Linked DNA regions of Homo sapiens: region 2 is linked to region 1. The links come from fine-mapping of genetic effects on gene expression. A gene starts in region 1. The other region holds a variant in brackets. All regions are shown on one strand. Distances are from middle to middle.

Region 1 (9,556 bases):
TGGCACTGAAGATCTCCAGGGACTTCAGAGACCAATAAAAGCCCATAGGGAAGAGAGAGAGGATATAGGGAAACAGAATCAGATGTGTAATATACTTGGCACAGCGAAAAAATGGATTTAAAAGACAAAAATGGAGGTCCAGGTAGATGTAATTCACACAGACTGAAAGTGAGTTCGGGCTTGTGTAAAACACATGAGATTGGATTTGACCCCTTGGCTCTCAAGTGTCCCCTTAGATCTAGAACTGCTCCTTGGTGGCCATTAGATCGAGTCAGTTTTGATCTGCATCACTTAGTTATTGGGAATTTCTTTGTTGGAAACAGGAAAATTTTTTTAGATTATTTGGTGTACGGTTTTGCTCACAACAATAGGTGGAAGTTGCTAGTGCAGTCTTGGTCTGATGGCTGTGTGCATCGCACATTCGGCTTGGTGAAATCCTTCTCTAAAGCCTCTTTTTGTATTTTTATAACTAAACAGAGGAAGTCTTCAGAAGACCTCGCTTTAAAACAAATTTGTGCAAACACTGCTAGAGTCATTTTGAAGCTCAAGCATTTTCACTTTGTTTCTTACATGTGTACTTTTTTGTTTACTTGTGAAAATGGCCATCTTTAAGCATATTTATTTTCTGCCACTTTATTTAAAGGCAAGCAATATTTTCTTGATCATAAATATTTTGTAATGAAATACTTCCTCTTTTCCAGGGCTTTGTATGCACTTGTATAATTACATTGATGGCAATGTAGAGTTTGAATTTCAGTCTGTAAATACTTTTTTGGAAAATAGAAATTTTTATTGCTTTAAAGTTTTGGATATGGGTGGTTTTCTTTTCCGGGTTTGGTGGAAAGTAATTTGAGAACTTTAAGGTTGTCTTTTTAACTGCTGGCAAAATGTTGATTTTTTAATATTAGATAAAACGAGTAAACGAAATTCCCCAGAAATTAGTAGTAAGTGGGGTCTTTGTGGGTTGGGAAGTAGTTTTAATGTAGAAAGACATTTACATATAAGTCTGTTTAATTTCAAAGGAGTTTGTGAAAAAAAATCCATGGTGAAAATGAAACAATGACATGGTTAATCTGGAACTTACGTTCTTATACCAATAAAAGGTACCTCAATACATGTTCTTTCAATTTCTGTTTTGTTTTTTTTTTTTTAATTTAATGTATTAAAGCATTTTGCAGTGGAAAACTCCTGAGGCATTGCTGTTGAAGAGGGAGAAATAGTGCTGGTGTGGCGGGGAGCTTGATGGAATTCATTGCATGCCGGGGTGAGGATGGTTTCCGTGTGCACTATATGAAGTATCCGCGACTCTCCTTAATCACACCCAGCAAAGAGTGATTGAGGCTTGAGCAGGTCCAAGGGAAGCAGACACTTCTTTCAAAAAGTTACATGCTTTGAAGGGACATCTATGGGGAAAAATACTGTGAAATCTCCTTATAAATTACATGCCAACAATGGGAATTTTTCCTTTCACTAAAAAGCTGTCAGTTGTAGGAGTCTCCAGGGTCTGTCCTTTTGTCTGTGTGCTCTGGTTTGGTCTTCCTTGATGAGAAGTGGCTGAATTTTTACAAGTCAACTTACCAAGTGCCATGGGCTTCCTTTCCTAGCTAGCTGTTTGACGTTGAGCAAGTTACCTAACCTCTCTGAGCGCTAATTAAACTGTAAAATGGGAATAAGATACTAGTGTAAGGCTTTAAGGATTCGATGCATGTACAAGTTAATGGCTGTTGTTTTCTTGCAAGAAAGGAAGCACTTCCATGGGAAGTTTTTTTTGGTTAAAGATAACTTCTATTTCTTCCATAATACCTACCTCCCTGGTACCAACTTAGATCTGAACTGGAGAGGAGGAACCAGCGTGTTTCCCTTGCCGGGCAGTGCTTACGATGGTGGTTCTTAACCCTGGCTGTGCCCTAGAATCAGTCCCTTGGAGTGCTGAGAAACTAAGGATGCCCAGGCTCACGTCACACACCAACTCAACCTTTGATTGAATCAGTCTCCAGAAGAGGGGTCTGGACATGGATGGTTTTTAAAGCCCCCTGGTGATTCGAAGGTGCAGGCTGCCTTGAGAACTGTTCATTGGTGTACAACTGCATACTTTTCTTGTTTCAACTAATTGAACATCCAAAGCTCCACCATGTTTTCTTCCATCAAATGCTTTTGTGTGTTTCAGTCTGACTCTGGATGGTTGAGTAGGATTTATAATGTATCTAATAATTTGGGGCCAGGTGTGGTAGCTCATGCCTGTAATCTGAGCACTTGGGGAGGCCAGCAAAAGGATCTCTTGAAGCCAGGAGTTTGAGATCAGCTGGGGCAACATAGTGAGACCCCCATCTCTACATTAAAAAATTTGAAACACAAATTGGGATCCTTTCACTAAATATTTACTAAGGTTCTGTATAATGTTCATCATTCTTTTTTTTGAGACAAGAGTCTCACTCTGTCACCCAGGCTGGAGTGCAGTGGTGCAATCACAGCTCAACAACTGCAACCTCCGCCTCCTGGGCTCAAGTGATCCGCCCACCTCAGTCTCCTGAGTAGCTGGGACTACAGGTACGCACCACCATGCCTGGCTAATTTTTGTATTTTTAGTAGAGATGGAGTTTCACTATGTTGGCCAGGCTGGTCTTGAACTCCTAACCTCAAGCAATCTGTCCGCCTCGGCCTCCCAAAGTGCTGGGATTACAGGCGTGAGCCACCATGTCTGGCCTCAAAAAAGTGTAATTTAAAAAATATTTCCCTGTATATATTCTTTGAACTTTGCCATCAGCCATCTTGTGAGGCAGGTTGGTTTCCTATCTTAAAGAAACAGGCTTTCCAACATTGTAATTAGTGCTTTCTTTTTCTTTTTCTTTTTTTTTTGAGACGGTCTTGCTGTAATCACCCAGGCAGGAGTGCAGTGGCACAGTCGTGCCTCATTGCAGCCTTGACCTCTAGGGCTTGATTGATCCTCCCGAGTAGCTGGGACTACAGGCCTGCCACCATGCCCAGCTAATTTTTGTATTTGTTGGAGAAGCAGGGATCCCTGTGTTGTCCAGGCTCGTCTCGAACTTCTGGGCTCAAGTGAGTCCTCCTTCGGCCTTTCAAAGTGCTGGGGTTACAGGCATGAGCCGCAGTGCTGGCCACACACCTGCTATTGCTTCCTCATTGCCTGTAGACCAAAATTTGTGGAGCTGGGTGGGAAGAGAGGTAGGGGAGTGGTTTCCTGCTTGTTATCTGGCTCATTTAGTCCTTTAACACAGTACTCAGCCTAGGAGATTGATAACCTGAGATTACTTGAAAAAAGATCACCCAAAAGTGAAAAACCAGTTAGGCAAACTGCACCAGCCCCAGGCAGAACCCACAGAACCTTGTTCTTCACCTTTGCACTTCCAAATGCCTCACTTTGATTGACTACTCTTTGCTCTGCAATTCCAATAATAGCTATCTTTAGTGTTTAGTATGTACCAGGTGAAACAAACATGCTATTCTACAAAACCAGTTCAGGGAAGTTAAGTAACTTGCTCCAGGCCAGCCTGCTGGTCATTGATCACCCTGGTTTCAAACCCTGTTTTTAGCTCCGAGCTTCCTAGTTGGGACTTACTTAATGTCACCTGCATTAGAATGAGTTGTTTACAGTACAGTCTAGGAGCATCTTATAGTGATGGAGAGCACTGCCTTTGGAATCATGCAAAGCTAGGTTCAGTCTTCGTTCTACTACTTATTTCTACCACTTTGAGCAAGTTACTGTATCTGTTATAACGGAGGTGTTGATAGTAGCTCCTACATTTGTGAGGACAAATGACAAATGAGGTGTTGATAGTAGCTCCTACATTTGTAAGGACAAATGAGAAATGTAGGTGTAATAATACAGAGAAATAATTTCCTGGTAGCTAGAAATAGAGTTATTTTGGGTGAGAAGTTGGGTAACCTGGCGATGGGAACACCATCTTCTACAGTCATTTCTTTAGTAAATTTCCTGGTATTTTTGTTGAACGGGGTGTGTAAGCTGAGGGGGAGATTTATGAAAGAAGACGATGAATACAGATGATAAAATTCTAATAAAGTTTCTGCTGTATCATGTGGCTCCTCTGTATCTTTTGTAAAATTACTTTTTGTTAATGTGCTGCAGAGTTGGATGAATTTGAGCAATATTTCCAAGTTTTAGAAGAGAGCTCCACGGTGAGACGCCTCTCACCTTGGGGACCTGTCCTCAGATTAGGGGCTCTGCAGTCAGTATCCGCAAATCCTTCCCCCACGGTTCCCAGCCCACCTGTGAGTGGCCTATTGCATTCCAATCACGACGTGTTAATCGATGATCTCTTTAGTACGTGGGGCTAGCACAGTTCAGGATCTATTTTCTCAGTTTAAGACCGTTTACATTTATTTTTATTATTTTCAGAAACAGAGTGTCCCTCTGCAGTGCCCAAACATAGCTCATTGCAGCCTCCCACTCCTGGGGTCAAGAGATCCTCCCGCCTCAGCCTACAGAGTGGCTGGGATCACAGGTGCATGCCACCGTGCCCAGTTAATTTTTAAATTTTTGGCAGAGACGAGGGTATGGGGGAGGGTGGGTCTCACTATGTTGCCCAGGCTGGTCTCGAACTCCTGGCCTCAAGCGATCCTCCTGCCTCGGCCCCCCAAAGTGCTGGGATTACAGGCGTGAGCCACCGTGCCCGCCTGATTAGGTTTATTATTACTCATTGAATGCAATCCTACGGAGCTGCACAGCAGGGTCCCAAACTCAAGCTTGTGGAAGGTCACACACCTGGGAAGCGTGGAGCAATGACCTAAAGCGCAGCAGTCGGAGCCAGAACCCGCCCCAGGAACTCGCCCGGAGGCTCTCTTGGCTGGTGCAGCTGCTCCCTGGCAGCTCTCCTTTCCCCGCTCCTTCACTCCCACGCTTTTGGGACTACACTTCCCAGCGCCCCTTGCGGAGGAGGCGGGCCGCGCGCTGCTTCCAGGGCCACTTCCTGGCTTTGGACTACATTTCCCGTGAGGCCTTGCGGCCATGTCCTGGATTTCTCCAGTCTCTTCGGCCGGCACCGCCTCCGCCTGGACTCCACTTCCCGGCAGCGCCCGCGGTGGGGCGGGGCAGGACGAGGCGGGACGCGCGGCCCGAGGGGCGGGGGCGGCGGGCGGCCCGGGGCTGCAAAGCGGGGGGCCGCCGCCTCCCTGGGCCTGCCTGGGCGGCCGCCTCCGCGATGCCGCTGCTCGTCGAGGGGCGGCGAGTGCGGCTGCCGCAGTCAGCCGGGGACCTCGTCCGAGCCCACCCGCCTTTGGAGGTGAGTGGGGCGCGGCGCGGGGCTTCGGGGCGGGCCCGAGGGGAAGCTGCAGGGCGGGCTAGCGCCCCCCTCACGCGACACAGACTTGAAACTTGGCGCTGTTGGCACATCCGGAGCCCCGGCCGTCGGCTCGCGTCTTCCCCTTGAGGGGTCGGGGAGTTTTTGCCTTCTTTAGACTTCAGCGGGCTGCCCCGGAGGCCACTCTCTGACAAGGGAGGGGACGGGGGCCCAGAGAGGTTAGGTGACTTGCCCAAGGTCGCACAGCACTGCGGCTCGGGGACACGCCGGGACCCCCATTCCCCGACGGGGCGGCTGCAGCCCCCATAGGGCTGGGTCCGTTTAGGCAAATCCGGCCGCCCGCCTTCGGGGACCCGCAGCCTGCGGTGAACGTTGCTTCGTCCTTGCGTCCCCGTGAAGCAGGAGGTTATTCCAGGGTGGGCTTCGGAGAGCGTTTGGCCTGGGGGATCTTGGCGGGGACCCCCAGTCCTTCCTCCTCTCTCTCCCCTACCCCCGGGGCGTAGGGCGCCGAGTTATTTTTAGCCGGGAGAGAGAGCCCTGCTTTCCGCAGCTGGGCCATAGGACCACGCCCTGATGCACGGGTTTTGTTTTTGTTTTTTCTGCTTTTGTGCTCAAATAGATCTCTGAACTCTTGTCCACGCTTATGCAGGGACTGTTGGCAAGGGGGTTCTCAGGTTTTAAAAAGAGCGGGGCGTGGCGGCGGGGGCAGACGTCCTATTTGCCATAGATCCTGTTAAAGGGGAATCAATCAGTTCCTTGATTTGAGAGTCAAATATCGAGCCCCTAATATCTGTTGGGCAACGTACTGATCACTGTCCCTGCCCTCGGAGTGTTTATAGTCTAGAAGGGAGAATGGTTTCTGATGAAGAAGGCTCAGATACTATAAACTGTTAAGTACCATAAAGAAAAAGCGTCCCCTTTCACTCTGAGATGGGAAGCACAGGAACCTGACCAAGTGTGTTGGGTTGGGGAAGGCATTTAGAGGTTTCATCTGTCACAGCTGTACAGTTTGTGATTATTTTGTTTGCTTGTTTGTTCTCTATTGGTCTGTCGCCAGAATGTAAGCCTCCTGAAGGCAGATAAGAGTAGTGTCCTCACTTTTGTATCCTCAGAGTGTAGGACGGTCCCTGGCATAGAATTGGCGCTCAGTAAAGATTTGCTGCATAAATGAGGTCACAAAATGACCCCTGAACGTGTTCTGAAGGGTGACAAGGACTTACTGACGGGGAGAAGGCAGACAGCTCTGTGTGATTCTCAGCTTGCATTTCAGGACCGACCATCGTCTGTTAGCCAACATGCACCGAGCTAGGCGTGGTGGCGTGTCACTTTATCCTTGCGTTGTGTTACTGTCCTGTTAGCTAGCGAAGTCAAGAGTAGGACTCACCAAGGAAAAATAATTTCAGCCGCCTGAAGAATTTAGGGGATGCTCTACTTTTATGTCTGTTTGAAAATGTCCGTGATAGAAAGTTAGATGGGTGTCCCGGGCTGCACACTTAAGTGTGGAGGGAGATTTGGTGACATACCGGGGCTGCTTCTCTCGAAGGAAGGTTTTGGCCTATTTAAGAAGACATGTCCTAGAAAGGCTGTGTACTGGGGACCAGTTTGTGTTACAGGAACTTTGGAAGGGGGCGATCACTTTGATTTGCGGCAGTGTAAGTGAAGAAGGATGCAGGCACGAGAGAGATTTGAAAAGGAGAAGAAGGGTGAGGGCATCGCAGCTGGGCAAGCCGCCTGGGGCGCGGCGGGCAGGAGGGGAAGGGCCCAGTGGGTGGGTGTCCTGGCCAGTTTCTCCGGAGCAGCCCGGGTGAGGAGGGGAAGCATGGAAAGTAACCTTACAGGGGTGGATTGTACCCAGATGACCAAATGACCAAGGGGCTTAGATGGACCTTTCACCTACTTAGCAACAGGGAGACATTAAAGGTTGGGTTTTTTGTTTGTTTGTTTGGTTGGTTGGTTTTTTTGAGACTTAGTTTTGTTCTGTGGCCCAGGCTGGATTGCTGTGGCACAATCTCGGCTCACTGCAACCTCTGTCTCCCAAGGTTCAAGCGATTCTCCTGCCTCAGCCTCCCAAGTAGCTGGGATTACAGGTGCATGCCACCACACCCAGCTAATTTTTTTATTTTTAGTAGAGACGGGTTTTCACCATGTTGGCCAGGCTGTTCTTGAACTCCTGACCTCAAGTGATCTGCCCGTCTCGGCCTCCCAAAGTGCTGGGATTACCGGTGTGAGCCACTCCACCTGGCCTGGATTATTTTTATATAATAAAACAGGGTGTCCTCTTTGTAGGAAAGCAAAATATAATAATACAGAAAAAAAAGTATGACTACAACCATTCTTTAGTTTGGTGAAAGTCCTAATGAAGGTTTTTCTTTGTATATAATTTACTTTTTTTAAAAAAATGATAGCTTACTATATGTTGTTTTATAATGTGTCTTTTTCATGTAACGATGTGTTCTGAGTATGGAGTACCAACAGTTAGAAGCCTGTGTGTAGCTATGACTAGCAAATAATAACAATAAGTCATACAGTGGAAGCTGCCAAGCACCACAGCAAGAGTTACTGCTATTCCCATTTTACAGATGAGGACTGTGGGGCACAGAGAGGCTGGGAAACTGGCCCCAGGCCCCACATCCTGGGAGTGGTGAAGCCAGGATTGGAACCCTGGCAGCCTGCCCTTGACTCTGGAGCTGCGCTATTCAGTACAGTAGCCACGAGCCATCTGGTTACTTAGGATTTAACTTAAAAATCAATTAAAATTAGATAAAATTGAAACTCAGTTCCTCAGTTGCAGTAGCCACATTTCAAGTGCCGAGCAGACAGCATGGCTACTAATGAGACAGTGTGAATATAGACGGTGGCCATCCCAGCATGAAGTTCCTTTGGCCAGAGCTGTTTAGAGCCCTCCCTTAGTCACTCTTAACCAGTCACTGGGTACTCGGTAACCAGTCCTGCAACATCTTGGGTAATACGGTTCCACAGAGTCTACAAGATGCTCGCAGCGTAGCTTAGTTCCTGCTTTTATTATTTATTTATTTATTTTTTTTTTGAGAGACAGAGCCTTGCTCTGTCACCCAGGCTGGAGTGCAATGGCACGATCTTGGCTCACTACAACCTCTGCCTCCCAGGTTCAAGTGATTCTCCTGCCACAGCCTCCTGAGTATCAGACATCTGCCACCATGCCCGGCTAATTTTTGTATTTTTAGTAGAGATGGGGCTTCAACATGTTGGCCAGGCTGGTCTGAAACTCCTGACCTCAAGCGATCATCTCGCCTCGGCCTCCAAAGTGCTGGGATTACAGGCGTGAGCCAGTGTGTTGGGCCTCATAATTTCTTATATAGCATTGTGCTTTACAGTTCACAGATCACCTTCATGCCCCTCTCCTGTTTATAAAGGAAGAATTGATAAACAGGACAGCAGGGGTGAGGGTCACATGATCATCCCCCAGGTCACAGCTAGGTGATTGGCTAAGACACAGGTCAACAAGCCACAGCTCATGGGCCGGACCCTGCTTATGTATAGCCTATAGGCCAAGAATGGTCTTTATATTTCTCAAAGGTTGAGAAAAATCAAAATAATATTTTGTAACATGGGAAATGGTATTGAAATTAAAACTTCGGTGTCACCTATAAATAAAGTTTTATTGGAACACAGCCACATCTGTATTGTCTATGGCTGCTTTCACTTCATAATAACAGCAGAGTTGAGCAATTGTGACAGAGACTGCGGCCTTGTAGAACCCCAAATATTTACTGTCTGGCCTTTTTCAGAAAATCTGCTGGTCACTGGGTTAAGAGAATACTGCCATTGAATAGGAACTGGGAAATAGGGATGAGGGACTGAGGGAAAAGCTTTTTTTTTTTTAAGCAAATATTAGTGTCTAGAGCATATTAGAGGTTAAGAAAACTGGGACTACTTGCATATGAATTTATAAAGTAGGACTGTGTGGTTTTCCAAAGAAGGGAAGTTTGGCTAAACTCTTTTTACTACTTAAAAGAGCAAAAATTAGCCAAGTGTGGTGGCGTGCGCCTGTGGTTCCAGCTACTGCAAAGGAGGCTGAGGTGGGAGGATTGCTTGAGCCCAGGAGTTTGAGGTTGCAGTGAGCTATGATCTGGCCACAGCACTTCAGCCTGGGCAACAGAGTGAGGCCTTGTCTCTAAAAAAAAAAAAAAAAAAATTAAAAATAAAGTAGAGGCTGGGCACAGTGGCTCATGCCTATAATCCTAGCACAAGTGTGGTGGCGTGCGCCTGTGGTTCCAGCTACTGCAAAGGAGGCTGAAGCA
Region 2 (9,556 bases), 680 kb after region 1:
CTCTGCCTCCCAGGTTGAAGCAGTTCTCCTGCTTCAGCCTTCCGAGTAGCTGGGACTACAGGTGCCCACCCCCATGTCCGGCTAATTTTTTGTGTTTTTAGTAAAGACGGGGTTTCACCATGTTGTCCAGGGTAGTCTCGATCTCCTGACCTCGTGGTCGATCTGCCCGCCTCGGCCTCTCAAAGTGCTGGGATTACAGGCGTGAGCCACCGCGCCCAGCCAATTTCCTTCCTTTTTTGAGGCTAAATAATATTCTATTGTCTTTATATACCATATTTTGTTTATCATTCATCTGATAATAGACACGGGTGTTATTTCTACCTTTTGACTTATTGTGAATGATGCTCTTATGAATATTGGTATAAAAATGGCTGTTCAGCTGTTCATCCTAACTGCACTTATTTTTATTATTTTTTGAGATAGGGTCTCGCTCTGTTGCCCAGGCTAGAGTACAATGGCACAATCACAGCTCACTGCAGCCTCTACCTGGGCTCAGGAGATCCTCCCACCTCAGCCTCCCAAGTAGCTGGGAATACAGGTGTGCATCACCATGGCTGTTTTTTTGGTAGAGACTAGGTTTTGCTGTGTTGCCTGGACTGGTCTCAAAATCCTGGGCTCAAGTGATCCTCCCACCTCAGCCTCCCAAAGTGCAGGGATTATAGGCATGAGCCACCACACCTGGCCTCATCATAACTACTTTTATATTTATATCTCTTTTTTCACACACTGAAAATCTAGGTCCCTAAAAACATTAGTATTTATCCTACACTAAGTATACAATTATTCAAAAATTGTAATAGCAACAACCTCTAAAAACAAACCTACAAAAGATATAAAGCAGATTGGTGGTTTTCAGGGCCTGGGAGAAGGGTGGAGTAAGGAGTGGCTGATTCATGGGGATGAGGTGTTCTTTTGAGGCAATAAAAAGTTCCAGATAGTGATGATAGATAGTGGTGATAGTTGCACAACATCTTCAATGTCCTAAATGCCACCGAGTTGTACACTTTAAAACTTTAATTAATTTCATGTGAGTTTCACCTCAATTAAAAAAAAGAAGACAGGCCAGGCGCGGTGGCTCACGCCTGTAATCCCAGCACTTTGGGAGGCTGAGGCGGGTGGATCACGAGGCCAAGAGATTGACGCCATCCTGGCTAATATGGTGAAACCTCGTCTCTGCTAAAAATACAAAAATTAGCTGGGCGTGGTGGCACGCGCCTATAGTCCCAGATACGTGGGAGGCTGAGGCAGGAGAATCGCTTGAACCCGGGAGGCGGAGGTTGCAGTGAGCCGAGGTCGCACCACTGCTCTCCAGGCTGGGTGACAGAGCAAGACTCCGTCTCAAAACACACACGCGCTTGCACACACACACACACACACAGACATGGGGGCTATTTAAGATGCCTATGTCATTCTTTTTGTCCTTAAAATATGTCACTGAATATATATCACCCTGAGGAGGTACAGTAAGATCACTGTGTTCAACAGGTAGTATTAACAGAAATAAGTTTTCATCCAGGCACAGTGGCTCACTCCTGTAATCTCAGCGCTTTGGAAGCCGAGGTGGGCGGATTACTTGAGTTCAGGAGTTCGAGACCAGCCTGGCCAACATGGTGAAACCCTGTCTCTATGAAAAACACAAAAATTAACCAGGTGTGGTGGCAGGCGCCTGTAATCCCAGCTACTCGGGAGGCTGAGGCAGGAGAATCGCTTGAACCTGGGAGGTGAAGGCTGCAGTGAGCTGAGATTGTGCCACTGCACTCCAGCCTGGGCCATAGAGTGAGACTCTATCTCAAAAAATAAATAAATAAATAAGTTTTCTCATTTTGATTATGTTATCAATTTGATATGCAATTAGGTTACTTGTTTCTGTATTGTATTCACCTTTGGGATTTGCTTTTTATCTTTTTTTTATTATTATTATTATTATTTTTTGAGATGGAGTTTCACTCTTGTTGCCCAGGCTGGAGTGCAATGGTGCAATCTCAGCTCAGTGCAACCTCTACCTCCCGGGTTCAAGCGTTTCTCCTGCCTCAGCCTCCCGAGTGGCTGGGATTACAGGTGCGTGGCACCACACATGGCTAATTTTGTATTTTTAGTAGAGATAGGGTTTCTCCATGTTGGTCAGGCTGGTCTCAAACTCCTGACCTCAGGTGATCCGCCTGTCTCAGCCTCCCAAAGTGCTAGGATTACAGGCATGAGCCGCTGCATCCGGCCTATTTTTATTTGAGATGAGGGTCTCATTCTGTTGCCCAGGGTGGAGTGCAATGGTACAATCTCAGCTGACTGCAACCTTTACTTCCTGGGCTCAAGAGATCCTCCTCCCTCAGTCTGGGACAACACATCTTGAATGTACTAAATGCCACTGAATAGTAAACTTTAAAACAGCAAATTTCATGTCTGAGTTTCACCTCAATAAAAAAAACAAAACTACAAATGTGGGTGATATTTACGATGCCTATGTACTTATTTTTGTCCTTAAAATATGCCACCCTGCGTGGCTAATTTTTGTATTTTTTTGTTTGTTTTTTGTTTTGTTTTGTTTTGTTTTGAGATGGAGTCTTGCTCTGTCACCCAGGCTGTAGTACAGTGGCTCCATCTCAGCTCACAGCAACCTCTGCCTCCTGGGTTCAAGCAATTCTCCTACCTCAGCCTCCTGAGTAGCTGGGACTACAGGTGCGCCCACCACGCCTGGCTAATTTTTGTATTTTTAGTAGAGATGGGGTTTCACCATGTTGGCCAGGCTGGTCTCAAACTCCTGACCTAAAGTGATCCTCCCGCCTCAGCCTGCCAAAGTGGTGGGATTACAGGCATGAGCCACCGTGCCTAGTCTTTTCCATTTTAAATGATAAGAAATGATAACACTTTATCAAATGTTATAAATATTTTTTTAATTTGTCCTTTGCCTTTCATTTTTGAACACAGCCTTAAAAAGAACAGGAATGTAAGATTCGTATGTGGCCCATTTTACCATAAGGGAGCTTCATGGTTTCTTGTCTCCGGTGCTGTGTACTTTTTCTTTTTGCTTTTCTGTGTCTTTGCATTGAAACATTTAACCATTGGCTTTTGTTTCCAGGTGAAGTAGGCATCGAACTCTGCTCATTTTCCAAATCACTGGCCATTTTGAATGACAAGTCCTTTGCCGCCCACTTTGATATGCTTCCTTTACTGCAGACTGAGTTCTCATGGAGGCTCAGGTCTCTTTCTGGACTCTCTTCCAGTCTATCCCTCTGCCATTCACGTTGTTATAGTTCCTGCCCAGTCTCCACTGTAGAATCTCTGAATTCCCCCAGACTGGAGAGTTGGGAGGTTGGACCGACCCCCTTTGTAAGGTTTTAGTTCAAGGCAAACCCCGTGGCCCAGCCGTTCAGAAGACACGTTCGGGCGATACCTTCTGCCCAGGTACTGTTTTCAGTGCCAAAAATAGAAAGATGATAAAGGCTTGGTCCCTAAGGCTCTCAAGGGTGACTGCTGCAGTGTTGGAGTTGAGTTTTGAAGGTTGGATAGAATTTTCTGGGCAGAGGAGAAAGGGCAGTGGGGGAACAGAACGTGGCAGACCTAGGAGGCATCATGACGGGGCTCAGGGCCAGCTCCCTATGGCTGGAGCAAGGATGGGAGTGAAGGAGTGTCCCAGCTTTGGTCTTGGGGAGGGAGGCAGGGCTGGGCCTCTTTCCCAGTGCCGAGCACTGGAAAGCCACTGAAGCTTTTATATGAACAGAAGCAGAGTAGCCTGGTGGGCTCTGGTTTGGTAAGATGGGCCTGGGGGTTGGGTGGGGAGGCAGCTACTTAGAGGGACAGTGAGGGTCTGTCTGAGAGGTCCTCCCCATTCTCCGCCAAGTCCCTCTGGACTTAGATTCAGAGCCAAGGGTAACTCTGATTTGTTTGGAGGCCTGTCCCTCTCATCCTGACCCCGCCTTGGCCCTGGATAGATGCATTAGGCGGTGTGTCCTACCTGTGGCCCAAGGTCCTCCCTCTCCTCCTCCCTCCCAGGATCTCCAGAAAGACCCAGGCTTGCCTGTAATCCCAGCACTTTGGGAGGTCGAGGGCAGATCACTTGAGGTCAGGAGGTCAAGACCAGCCTGGCCAACGTGGTAAAACCCCGTCTTTACTAAAAATACAAAAAAATTAGCCAGGCGTGGTGGCAGGTGCCTGGCACCTACTCGGGAGGCTGAGGCAGGAAAATCGCCTGAACCCAGGAACTCAGGAGGCAGAGGTTGCAGTGAGCTGGGATTGCGCCACTATGCTCCAGCCCGGATGACAAAGTGAGACTCCATCTCAAAAAAAGAGATCCAGGCTCAATTCAAAGATGCCCGCTTGCTTTGAGCTCACATTTTCTTCTCACTCCTTGGCCGAGGCCTTGACGTGTGTCCTGGGATGGAGATGTTGGGGTGGGGACCGGGTAACTCTGGTCCCTTGTGGCGCTGAGGGAGCATGACAGGAGAGCTGTCCAACCCCACTGCACATTCTTGAGGGCTCCTTCCGATGGCCCAGGAGGCTCACTGGGCAGGCATGGAGAGTGAGCCTGGGGACTTGCCCAGGACTTGGGAGAAGAAGTGCAGAGACAAGATTGCCCCCAGGCCTCTGAGTGGCTTCAAGGAGGGGAGTGGACAGGAGAGGTGGGGCATCACGGGGCTGGCTACCAGGAAGGAGCTGGGCCCGGGAAGGAAAAGGGCCCCCAATCCCATGGGTTGTTGTAAAAACTCCCAGAAGGCCTGGGGCAGGTGGAGAGGGCTGGGGGACTCCGCGTGGGTTCACGAAGCCTTGTGACTCACTGTCCTGCCACTCTGTTTCTCAACTAACCAGCTCAGTGCAGGAATCCCTGGGGGTGCGGAGCCCTTTCTGAGTCAACCTTTTCCTCAATGGGCAACTCATCGTCTGGGACCACATGAACCCAGCTGCACCCCAAGCTGTGTCCTGCCTGCCCTGTGGCCTCAGCCAGGTGGGCCCGTGTACCCCTCCCCATCTCTTTCTTCCACTGCAAAATGGGGGGATTGTGCAGCGTGCCTGGTATCTGGTCCATCTTCAATACACAGCGATGGGGATGGTCTCATGTCTCCCTCCCGCTCCTTGGTCTTGGCAAAGATGAAGGACCTCGGGCTTCTAGAAGGATCAGCGTGCAGACCAGGGCTTCTGCATAAAGCTCCCCTGATAGCCAAGAGACAGGCCTTTCTGTTTCCCCAGCTCCTCCCACCTAGGGTAAGCCCAGCTCTGGTCAACCACACCCTTCCTTCAGGCGATCAGGTAACAGGATATCCAAGTGACACAGGGCAAATCTCTTCCCCTTCCAGCCTCAGTAAGCTCA[T/C]CTCCGTGGCCAGAGTGGAACCCGTTAGACTTTCCCATGTCCAAATTCCAGGATCCCTTTTTTTTCTTCTTCATATGAATGGGATCAAATAACATGTGACTTTTGTGTCTGGTATCTTGCATTTAGCATAATGTTTTCAAGGCTCATTCCTGTGTCAGCACTACTTTTTTTTTTTCCTGCCAGATGTACGTTCATAAGTACTTAATTTTTTTTTTTTTTTTTTCTGGAGACAGAGTTTTGCTCTTTTTGCCCAGGCTGGAATGCAGTGGCATAATCACAGCTCACTGCAACCTCCGCCTCCCCGGTTCAAGGAATTTTCCTGCCTCAGCCTCCTCAGTAGCTGAGATTACAGGCATGCACCACCACACCTGGCTAATTTTTTGTATTTTTAGTAGAGACAGGGTTTCACCATGTTGACCAGGCTGGTCTCAAACTCCTGACCTCAAGTGATCAGCCCACCTCGGCCTCCCAAAGTGCTGGGATTACAGGTGTGAGCCACCACACCTCAGCCTCCAGAGTAGCTGCCTCAGCCTCCAGAGTAGCTGGGATTATAGGTGTGCACCACCACACCTGGGTAATTTTTGTTCTTTTAGTAGAGACGGGGTTTTGACATGTTGGCCAGGCTGGTCTCAAACTCCTGCCCGCTAGTGATTCACCCGCCTTGACCTCCCAAAGTGCTGAGCCACCAAGCCCAGCCCCAGCAAGTCTTTTTTTTGTTTGTTTATTAATGGCTAGGACTTCATTTGTTAATGGCTGAGTAATACTCCATTGTGTGGACAGACCAGTTACTTCTCTGGACATCTGGGTTGTTGCCCCTCTTTGGCTGTTACCAGTCATGCTGCTGTGAACTCTCATGCATAAGTTTTTGTGTACACAGATGTTTTCAATTCTGCTGGGCATATGCCTGGGAGTGGAATTGCTGGGTCACAGGGTGATTCTAAGTTTGTTTGTTTGAGGGACCTCCAGGCTGTCTTCCATTGATGCTGCACGTTGAACATGAGGGCTCATTCTGAATTCTCTACATTTACTTCCCTGTTAGGGGAAATCTCAGGGTTTTAGAAAAAAGCTGCAACAAAAGAAGTGGCCGCCCGTCCAGCCATGAAGCCTAACGAATTGCTTGGGACCTGTTGGCCCCTTTACCCTGGAGATCCACCCTCTGAGCTCTGCCGCGTGCCAGTTCCGCTATTGGGAGGAGCTCAGGAGGATGATGAGGATCCCAGAAAGTTCTATGCCCACTGCTTTCATCCTGGCTGTAGCCTGCCAGGAGGGCACTGTTATTATTATGGCCACTTTTTTGGATAAGAAAGTGAGGGCTCAGACATTATAAGACTTGCTGGGGCCTGTAATCCCAGCACTTTGGGAGGTAGAGGTGGGCAGATCACGAGGTCAGGAGTTCGATACTCTCCTGGCCAACATGGTGAAACCCCGTCTCTACTAAAAATACAAAATTAGCCAGGCATGGTGGCGGGTGCCTGTAATCCCAGCTACTCAGGAGGCTGAGGCAGGAGAATTGCTTGAACCTGGGAGATGGAGGCTGCAGTGAGCTGAGATTGTGCCACTGCATTGCAACCTGGGCAACAGAGCAAGACTCCATCTCAAAAAAAAAAAAAAAAAAGACTTGGGGCTGGGCTTGGTGGCTCAGCACTTTGGGAGGTCAAGGCGGGTGAATCACTAGCGGGCAGGAGTTTGAGACCAGCCTGGCCAACATGTCAAAACCCCGTCTCTACTAAAAGAACAAAAATTACCCAGGTGTGGTGGTGCACACCTATAATCCCAGCTACTCCGGAGGCTGAGGCAGGAGAATCGCTTGAACCTGGGAGATGGAGGCTGCAGTGAGTCGAGATCGCACCACTGCACTCCAGCCTGGGCGACAGAGCGAGACTCTGTCTCAACAACAAGAAAAACACTTGCTGGATGTCACACAGCCTCATAGTGACCCACCTGGGATCTGAAGCCAGGTGGCCTGACTCCAGGCTCTGTGACTGTAACCATGAATCTGCACTGCCAATGCCCCTTGTCCCCGAGCTGGTGGGGGCCTGGGGTGCACGTGGCGCTCTCTGCCCTCTGATATTTCAGCCGTAGAGGGGTCTGCCTCTGTTTGAAGAACCTGGGGGTGGAGATTCCATGTTGATGGCAAGAGGCCTCCTTTCTCTGATCCCAGGGGAGAAAAAAAGTGGGAAGGGGGCATACTGCCAGCCGCCTGGCCCCCCTGCCCTGTGCCCCTCACACAGCTGGCACCAACGTCAGTTCATGTTGCCCAAGCCATCTGGCTGATTAACCATGGCTGCCATCCCCAGGAGGCTCCTGGAGCATCAGAATGAGCTTATTACTCGAACAACAGGGCCCCTTCCCTCCTTGGAACTCCTGCCTGCCTCTCTCTGGGGACCTGTCCTCAGAGGGACTGGTGGGGAGGGAGGAATAGCTGGGCAAAGTCCTGCCCACGGCTGCCCCAAGAAGAGGGTACCTACAGCTTGCTTTAGGACAAGGACATGTAGGAAGGCCCCCTGGCCAGGTCATGTGCTCAGGCAGGGTCTGTCTGTCTAGAAGAGTCTCTTTTTTTGAGAGGAAGTCTTGTTCTGCTGCAGTGCAAAAGCTCACTGCAACCTTCGCCTCCCGGGTTCAAGTGATTCTCCTGCCTCAGCCTCCCGAGTAGCTGGGATTACAGGCACGTGCCACCACACCCAGCTAATTTTTATATTTTTAGTAGAGACGGGGTTTCGCCATGTTGGCCAGGCTGGTCTTGAACTTCTGACCCCAAGTGATCCTCCTGTCTTGGCCTCCCAGAGTGCTGGGATTACAGACGTGAGCCACCACACCAGGCTGGGAGTCTTTATTTTTAATTTTTTTTCTATTTCTAATTTTTAATGCATTTCAAACCGGGGTCCTTATTTTTTTGTCTTTTTTTAAACTATAAAGAAACAGGGTCTTGCTATGTTGCCCAGGGCGGTCTTGAACTCTTCGAGTCAAGCAATCCTCCCATCTTGGCCTTCCAAAATGCTGGGATTACGGGTGTGAGGCACCGCGGCTGGCATAACCAGAGTCTTTAGATACCTCTCTGGGCCCTGGGAGGCTGCCTTCATTTCAACAGCTTTAGTGAGACATACTTTACATACCATAAAATTCCCTCATCTGAAGTGTTCAATCCTATGAGTTTTAGTAAATCTATGTCATTTTGCAACCATCACCCCAAACTAATCTTACACATTTCCATCGCTCCAAAAAGAAACCATGTAGCTGGCCAGGCGCAGTGGCTCACGCCTGTAATCCCAGCAGTTTGGGAGGCCAAGGAGGAGCAAAGTCACATCTTACATGGTGGCGGGCACGAGAGAGTGTGTGCATGGGAACTCCCCTTTATAAAAGCATCAGATCTCATGAGACTTATTCACTCTCATGAGAACAGCAGGGGAAAGACCCACCCCCGTGATTCAGTTACCTCTCGCTGGGTTATGGGAGCTACAATTCAAGATGGGATTTGGGTGGAGACACTGACAAACTGTATCATAGGTTCATGCCCAAACACAGAGAGCCTCAGGCTAGGAGCCATCAGATCTCCGGGGCCTTCTTCCCTCCATGACCCCAACCCACCCTAATTCTGGCCATCCGAGCCTGAGCTGCTGCTCTGATGATCCCAGTGTGAGCCCAGAGGCAGCCAGCCCGTTTCCGACTACTGGGAGAACCCCAGGGCTGCTGTCTGTGCCTCCCGCTTTGGGCTTGGGTCCTGTGAACTTGTGACCTCTGCGGGAGAAAATCTCCCAGCAGACGGGGTTGACTGGGGCCTGAGCAGGAGGCCTGACATTGGCTCTGGTGCCTGACATGAGTTGGCTGAGTGTGACAAGAGGCTCCCTGGACAGAAGAAACAGTCATTTCCCAAAGTGCTTTCTGGGAATGATGGAGTTGGAAGCCCTGGGTTCAAATCCCCTCCCTGGCCCTCACTAGGCATTGCTGTTACCTCTCCGCATCTGTTTCCTCTTCTGCAAAGTGGGATGTAATCCATCTCAAAGCATTAGCTGTGGTTAAAGAGAATCAGGCGAGAATCAGGGTGTCACCTCCTCCAGGTCGGGAGAAAATGCTCTCCTATGGATTTCTGCAGCCCCTGTGCGTGGCTGGGGTCCCAGCACTGGTCACACAAGGCTGTCCTTTTCCGTCTCCCCTGGCTGACTTGGCTCCTTGGGAACAGAGAGTGTGCCATATTCACCTCTGTCCCCAGCTCCTCCTTGGGCCTGGTGCAGAGTGGGCGGCAGGGACTGAATAGCTGAA

The links.
Region 2: its variant is fine-mapped to the expression of NTAN1 in sigmoid colon (GTEx, PIP above 0.99).

Annotation. Positions count from the first base shown.
Region 1 is chr16:15,051,593-15,061,148 of GRCh38, reverse strand. NTAN1 (N-terminal asparagine amidase) reads left to right here and starts at 5,075. Exons shown (of 10, transcript NM_173474.4): 1 at 5,075-5,258. The coding sequence starts at 5,178. RRN3 (RNA polymerase I transcription factor RRN3) reads left to right here. Exons shown (of 18, transcript NM_018427.5): 18 at 1-1,116. It also overlaps a transcript of PDXDC1 not described here. RefSeq lists a silencer at 5,520-5,704.
Region 2 is chr16:14,374,136-14,383,691 of GRCh38, reverse strand. No RefSeq gene overlaps it. Among named protein-coding and RNA genes, the nearest start is that of LINC02130, 8.6 kb to the right of the region's middle. RefSeq lists an enhancer at 7,353-7,853 and a silencer at 9,200-9,375. The variant T/C (reference allele first, on the strand shown) is at 5,300.